2 linked regions of the Homo sapiens genome follow. The protein of the gene in region 1 purifies or fractionates together with the protein of each later gene. This does not show direct contact. Each region holds a gene or a part of one and is shown on either strand. Other genes may lie near its edges. The genes, in order: SEPTIN10 and PSME4.

The links.
Region 2: the proteins of SEPTIN10 (region 1) and PSME4 fractionate together in Homo sapiens (co-fractionation; one large-scale study listed by BioGRID). This does not show direct contact.

Annotation. Positions count from the first base shown.
Region 1 is NC_000002.12:109,561,854-109,565,676, forward strand, and holds part of SEPTIN10 (septin-10), read right to left. Parts: intron 2,682-3,823; coding exon 2,513-2,681; intron 1-2,512. UniProt on the Homo sapiens protein: Filament-forming cytoskeletal GTPase. May play a role in cytokinesis.
Region 2 is NC_000002.12:53,960,949-53,964,771, forward strand, and holds part of PSME4 (proteasome activator complex subunit 4), read right to left. Parts: intron 1-3,823. UniProt on the Homo sapiens protein: Associated component of the proteasome that specifically recognizes acetylated histones and promotes ATP- and ubiquitin-independent degradation of core histones during spermatogenesis and DNA damage response.

The sequences.
Region 1 (3,823 bases):
AATTACATATCCTTAGCCAGGTGTGATCCATCACTGTAATCCCATCACTTCAGGAGCCCAAGGCAGGCAGATCACTTTGTATTTTTAGTAGAGATGGGGTTTCAAGACCCCAGGAATTCAAGGCCAGGAATTCCTGACCCCAAGGCCAGGAATTCAAGACCAGCCTGGCCAACATGGTGAAACCCTGTCTCTACTACAAAAACACAAAAATTAGCTGGGGGTGGTGGTGCATGCCTATAGTCCCAGCTACTCAGGAGGCTGAGGCATGAGAATCGCTTGAACCCAGGAGGCAGAGGTTGCAGTGAGCAGAGATCATGCCACTGAACTCCAGCCTGGGCAACACAGTGAGACTCTATCTCAAAAATAATAATAATAATAATAAAATTAAATTTAAAAAAATACATGTCTTAAGCATGCTTCTCACCCCTCTGTCACTACCCCTCTCTTTCACGCCTCCATCTTCTCATGCCTGGACCACCATGGCAACCTCCTAACTTGGTCTCCCCACTTCCACCTGCCCCCCTCCCCCAACTCTCTTCTTCACATAGGGGTCCTCCTCCCACCCCTCAACAGAGACTCTACACAAGCAGGGTCTCTATTTGATCCAACAGTGCACATACACCCAATGACTAGCATTTGGCTGAGCAGATAGCAGACAAACTATTTGCTGAATGACTAAGAATTCTGACTGCAGATTTCTAGGCTTCATCCCTGGAAATTCTGACCCTGCATTTCTTAATCATCCACAGGTGACTGATGATGACTCCACCAGACACCTAGGCCTGTCTCCTCAGAGAGGACTTCAAAGTTGTCCCTGCCCGCTCTTACTCAGGACCCCTTCCACCTCAGTGCACAGAGGCCTCTGAAGTGACCCTGAGACTTGGAAGAAATGAGAAGTGAGTCTCCTCTGAGAAACACTAGGGAAGCTAACTCGAGATGATTAATCTTTAGTGAAGACAATATCATGAGAAAATTGTCAGTTTACGAGAATGACTGGCCCACAACCAGAAGCATCCTATGCCTGAATTTGGTGAGGGTGGGTTAAGTACACACAATGCTTTTTTTTTTTTTCTTTGAGATGGAGTCTCGCTCTGTTGCCCAGGTTGGAGTGCAGTGGCACGATCTCAGCTCACTGTAAACTCTGCCTCCCAGGTTCAAGTGATTCTCCTACCTCAGCCTCCTGAGTAGCTGGTTTTACAGAAGTGTGCCACCATACCCAGCTAATTTGTGTAATTTTAGTAAAGACGGGGTTTCACCATGTTGGCCAGGCTGGTCTTGAACTCCTAACCTCAAGTGGTCTGCCCGCCTTGGCCTCCCAAAGTGCTGGGATTACAGGCCATGAACCACCACACCCGGCCATAAGTATATACAATTCTTAATTCATTATGCTACCAGAAGTGAAAACATTAATTAACTCCATAGACTGAAGAAATTTAAAAATTTAACTTCATCTAAGATTAAGTCTTCCAAAAGCTTATATGCAACAGCGGCACTAATTTGATGCACTCCTCCCCCTTTCTTTTGTTTACTCTGGTGCAGGTGCTAAGAACCAGAGAAATAACAAATGCAAACAATGCAATGGAAAAGGAATCCTCAGTCTCATAAGAGAGTTTAAAATAGCACTTGTCCCAAGGATCTCACGCTTTCCTGCATGCAAACACTGTTCTGGAATGCTACATCAAATTGATCTGATTCAGTACACTAAGGATTTGAGTTGCATAAAGTCTGGGATACAGCACCATATAAAATTACCAAGGAAGTTTCTACAACTTTTAATGCTTTATATTACTGAGCAAGGAAGGGTTCAGATTCTAAAATTCTTATAACTACACTGTAATATGGCAAGAAACAATCTAATCTCCAACTCCCTACAAGCACTCTCCTTCTTCCTTTATAATATGTTTTGCTAAGCTTCACTCATTCCAAAACCTTTACAGAAGAAAAACCAACAGAAAATGTTTTAGTTTATTTTAAATGATTCCTGAGGACTGGTATGGAGGCTCACATTTGTAATCCCAAAGCTTTGCGAGGCTGAGGTAGGAGGATCACTTGAGGCCAGGAGTTTGAGACCAGCCTGGGCAACATAGTAAGACCCTGTCTCTACAAAAAATAAATAAATAAAACTAAGAAAATGATTTGTGTTCCAACTTACCTTTATGACAACAGTTAAATATATCATCGTCTCAGATAAATACAAAAAGAAATCAAATAATGAGGGTATTTTCCTTCAGTTACTCATGTCAGCATGAACTGAAACAGGGGGCCTCTGCCATACATTCTTCATCATATTTAACTCTTTTTGAGTCAGACAAGGACTTAAAAAGCAAGACTCTTCAAAAGCAAGAAGGAGTCAAGTGATTCAAGAAGCACAATAATTAGTCATTACCAAATGATTCTATATCATGGTTTTGGGAGATTCTAAAGAACACATGCCCCATCATCCTGGATATATAAAAATATGCAATCCTCTCTAACTTCCTCTTTGGTTGGCTTCCCAAGAACCCCACCCTACCTGACTGGCTTGTTTTCTGGGCCCACATCTGTAAAGCCCATTTCCTCCAGTTTGCAGCGCCTGTAAAGCTCATAGTGCCTGGTATGGGTCTGCTCTCGCAGGTCCTCCATATTTGTACAAATGAGCATTTCCCGCAGCTTTACAAAGTCACAGTGGTTTTCATTTTCCACTAGCCAAAAAAAAATAAGAAAAGAACAACACTGGATTTTAATTCCTGGCACACAACTAAGTGTTTGCTGAATGAACAAATAAATGAAAACATGTGAAACAACAAATAGCAAATGATCAGTTTGATTAACAGCTACGATTATTTTATACATGTAACCAAGGAAGAAACTCTTGCAGTATAAATACTGTATCATAGGCAATGTGAATTAACAGACCAGATTTACTTTAAATTTAGTAGCCAATGAATCACCAGGAAATACCAAAAAAGACACAACTTATTGTTAACCAAGTGTTCTAGTTATTTCACACTAATATTTTGTTAGCAGTTTACAAACTATCCTGAAGACATTTCACATAATGTTTAAAGAGTATGTAATATTAGTTCACTAAAACTTCAAAGTAGTAAATTCTGCAAACTCAAGAATACTATCCTTCCCTGCTATAATTATCAAATTCTTTTTATAGAACACATTTATGATCCTGTGTTAGACACTATTCAAAATTAGTGAACACACTTACATGATCCTTCTTCTATGTTTACGGTGACCAGAGGACTACAAATAAATATATTTTATTGTGACCAATACTCTTAAGTATAATTATTACTTTTACATTTTTTATAAAATTAAAAATGTTATATTTTCTCAATTTTTTCATTCATTACAAAATTTATCAATTAAGAAAAAAAATCAGCATTTGGAAATCCATACTAGTAAGGGTAATCTATTCACCATTAATTAGCACTATAAGTAAATGAACCATATAATACTATTTACTTACTCATTATAATGTCAGCTAAATAATCTAAATGTCAAGTAGATTTAACTTTTTAAGTTGGCTGACTGGCTTATTCTGGAAATAGCCGGCAATACTTTGATCAGTAAAAATATATAAATTTATAAGATGGTTGACTGTTCTTATACTTAAGTGGTAATTAGTGATGTTTTATGTCTGAACACTACTTTCCACATTCACATTTTGGTCAGAGTGCCCCACTGGTGTTTCCCACCTACTAACAGGGTACCGTGGGGGCGGGGGTAATGTGTGTGTGGCATAATGAGAAGTGGGAGGCTCTACACGGCCTCCAGACTTTGGCTAAAATAGTACACAGCCAATTCCTCTGACAACCAATCACATCCAAAC
Region 2 (3,823 bases), about 56 Mb from region 1:
AGTACAAAACTAGCTGGGCATGGTGGCGCATGCCTGTAATCCTAGCTACCCAGGAGGCTGAGGCAGGAGAATCGCTTGAACCTGGGAGGCAGAGGTTGCAGTGAGGCAAGATGGTACAATTGCACTCCAGCCTGGGTGACAGAGCAAGACTCAGTCTCAAAGAAAGAGAGAGAAGAAATGTTAAGTGTAAACCAAATACAGAAGTAGTCAACCTCAAGGTTCCAAATGGGAATATTTATAGTATGTGCTGCTTTTAACATTCCAATAGAGGTCTCAATGAATGTAGAGGTTTTCTGTTGCTGTTGTTGTTTGCTTACCGTTTTTACTACCATGCTCTCAGTTTGGTGTTCATATAGAATGAGATTTTGATCTAATTTTCTACAAAGGTTAGACAGAAACATAGATTAGGATTTTTGTATTTGAAAAGGAGGGAAGAGGCGCTAGGTGCAGTGGCTTATGCCTGTAATCCCAGCACTTTGGGAGGGCGAGGCAGGAAGATTTGAGCCCAGGAGTTTGCGACCAGCCGTGGCAACATAGTGAGACCCTGTCTCTACAAAAATAAAAATAAAATAATAAAAACCTAGCTGGGTGTGCTGATACATGCCCGTGGTCCCAGCTACTCCAGAGGCTGAGATGGGAAGATCGCTTGAGCCTGGGAGGTTGAGTTTGCAGTGAGCTGTGACAGCGCCACTGCACTCCAACCTGGGCGACAGAGCAAGACTGTCTAAAAATAAGGGGGGGAAGGGGGATGTTTGAAATGCTCATTCCCCATTGCTGTAAAGAAACAGCACTTCAACATAAATTTAATTTCCTCAGCAAGGCCATTTTTATACTTTCTGCAGAAAAGGTACACTCGCCAGCAGTTTTGCCAGGAGAGTACACCCAACAAAGGAGACAGGGTCATTTATAACCCGAAGCGTCCACCCTACTGTTGTGTCCGGTTTCCACTTGCTAGAACGGGACCTCACATTCTGTATTTGTCCCGATTGGCTAGCAACTTAGAACTTTTTAAAAGAGGCAAAGGCAGAGAACAAAGGAAGGAGGAAGTAACTTGTGGAATGCTGAGAAAGATAAAAACACCTTCAAATAAGGAAGAGGAACAGGCTATGACCTAATGCTTGCTTGGACCAGTATAAGCATGCCAGGGCAAATATTTAGGCTAAATTGTGGGAGCTAAGAACATAAAGTACATTGATTTCTTCATTATGGCTAGCAGATATTTAAGAATGTTTGCAAGGGTCTTTGAATAAATTTTGCTTGTAAGAGAAGTTACTATTTATTCCTAATTAGATGGGGAGGAAAGTCTTTGAAGAGGAACCTCTACTTTTTACAGGGGCGAAAGGGATTCTCTAAAAATAAGTCTCATTTAGCAGAAAAAAGTTAATTCCCAGGTTCCATAAGAAAAACAGTTCTTAGAAGTTATATAGTTATATGCTTATTTACAAGCTTGCCAAAAAAAAAAAAACAGTAAAAATTTGCCTCCACTTCAATTAACAACAGGTATTTCAAATACAATTTTATTTTACAACACTGCAGAAAGAACACTTGGGAAAACCATTCTTAAGTGACATTCAGATCTCAGAACATCAAACGGTACATTTCTTTTTTCTAACTGCCTTTCTTAGTGCCTCAAAGTAAGGCATTAAAACACAGTGGTCAGAATGAGATTTTCTTTTCAAATAATACATTCAGAATTCCTATTTTCTTCAATGTTTTTGATGAAGTTACCACCTGGCCTAGTCTGTCCTAAATGAACAAAAATGTGCACTGAATAAAGCACACAGCTGGGCACGGTGGCTCACGCCTGTAATCCCAGCACTTTGGGAGGCTGAGGCAGGCGGATCATGAGGTCTGGAGATCGAGACCATCCTGGCCAATAAGGTGAAACCCCATCTCTATTAAAAACAGAAAAATTCGCCAGGCATGGTGGCTGCACCTGTAGTCCCAGCTACGCAGGAGGCTGAAACAGGAAAATCACTTGAACCCAGGAAGTGGAGGCTGCAGTGAGCCGAGATCGCGCCACTGCACTCCAGCCTGGGTAACAGAGCGAGACTCAGTGTCAAAAAAAAAAAAAAAAGGACACATACCATATGCAGTGGCTCACGCATGTAATCCCAACACTTTCCCAACACTTTCAGGAGGCAAAGGTGGAGGATCACTTGAGCCCAAGAGTTCAAGGCCAGCCTGAGCAACATAGTGAGACTTTGTCTCAAGAAAAACTTTAAAAATTAGCTTGGCGTGGTGGTATATGTCTGTAGTCCAAGCTAACCAGGAGCCTGAGATGGGAGGATCGCTCGAGGCCAGGAGCTCAAGGTTAAAACAGGGGGGTATGATTGCACTCCCTATGATTCCAGCCTGGGTAAGAGACCAAGACCATCTCTTCAAAAAAAAACACACAAAAAAGAAAGAGCGCACTGAAACTTCCAGAGGGCAGAAAACTTGCGCTGATACATCCCAAACGCCAAAACCAGTGCCCAGCCCACGCATTGCACTCAAAAAATTGTGTTCAAAGAAGATTGATGTCTGCCTCTACTACACTGTATTAACCCATGACTGTACACTAACCTATGAGCCTCTTGTGTCTTCATTTTTTAAATGAAGGTAACTTAAGAGAATACTTGTTACCCCAGGATTGAGTCTAAGTCTTCAAAGGTAAAAGGCAGAAATGAAAGATGTCATAATGTGAAAATGTTCATTAATGAGCTATTTTCTTGATCTCTGTCCATGAGATTTGATTACAGTAAACCTTAGGCAAAAAAATGCAAATGAAATGGAAACTCAGAAGTAAAATCACAAATTTGGCAAAGAAGCAGAACCTTATGAGATTGATCAAAGTGATAATAGATGTTAATTTTTTTAGGTTTTATAATAGTATTGGTATTGCTTTTTTTAAAAAATTCCTTTTCCTTTGAAGATATATACTGGAAACATTCATGAATAAATAATATACTTCAAAAACAATGGGGAAAGGGGATGATGAAAAGAACATAACTGGCCATGAGTTAATTAAGTGAAGATAGGTGATGAGGTTCATTATATTGTCTTTTGAATATTTGATATTTTTCATAATAAAAAATATGTAATGAAAAGAGTTTAAATATTAGAAAACTTCAAATCAGAAACACACATATGCTCATTGGCCAGTGATGTTCAGGAAGAAATAGCCAATTAACTAGTGAAAAGAAAACGACAAGCTGTTTTCAAGAAATTACTGAGAGATCTCTGGAAAACAGTAAGGGCCTCAAATATTTTTGAAAAAAAAGTATATGTGTGACATCATCATGAAAAATCAAATGTATGCATGTGTAGAGACAGAGGGTATACAGGAACTCTATACTTTCCATTCAATTTTGCTGTGAACCTAAAATTGCTCTCAGAAATAAAATTTTTGAAAAAATCAAATATGAAATATGTCTTATTGTGCTATTACATTATACAACTTTATCAAAGAAATTCATGTTCTCCAAAATCAGTTCCTTTTTTTTCCCCTTATGGAAAATCAACTTTCTCACTACAAAGAAATTTTGGTTCCCATTTTGAATGATCACTTAACAACAAAGTAAAACCTCTTCTATCACTCTCTCTAACTGGTTCTCACTGATGAGTTTGGTAACTTGTCAAGATTTCAAGATTCATTTACAAATAAAACCACTTGCATTTATTGTGTACTTCAATTTCAATACTCAAACATTAGATACTCTTAGGTGCCTCATACCAGACAATGCAGATTCAGCAGTTAGCATTTCCTTTCTTTCCCAACACGGGGATGATATGAATGTGGGTGCTCCTGTGGCCACTTATTACTTTCCACAAGAGAAGGTTT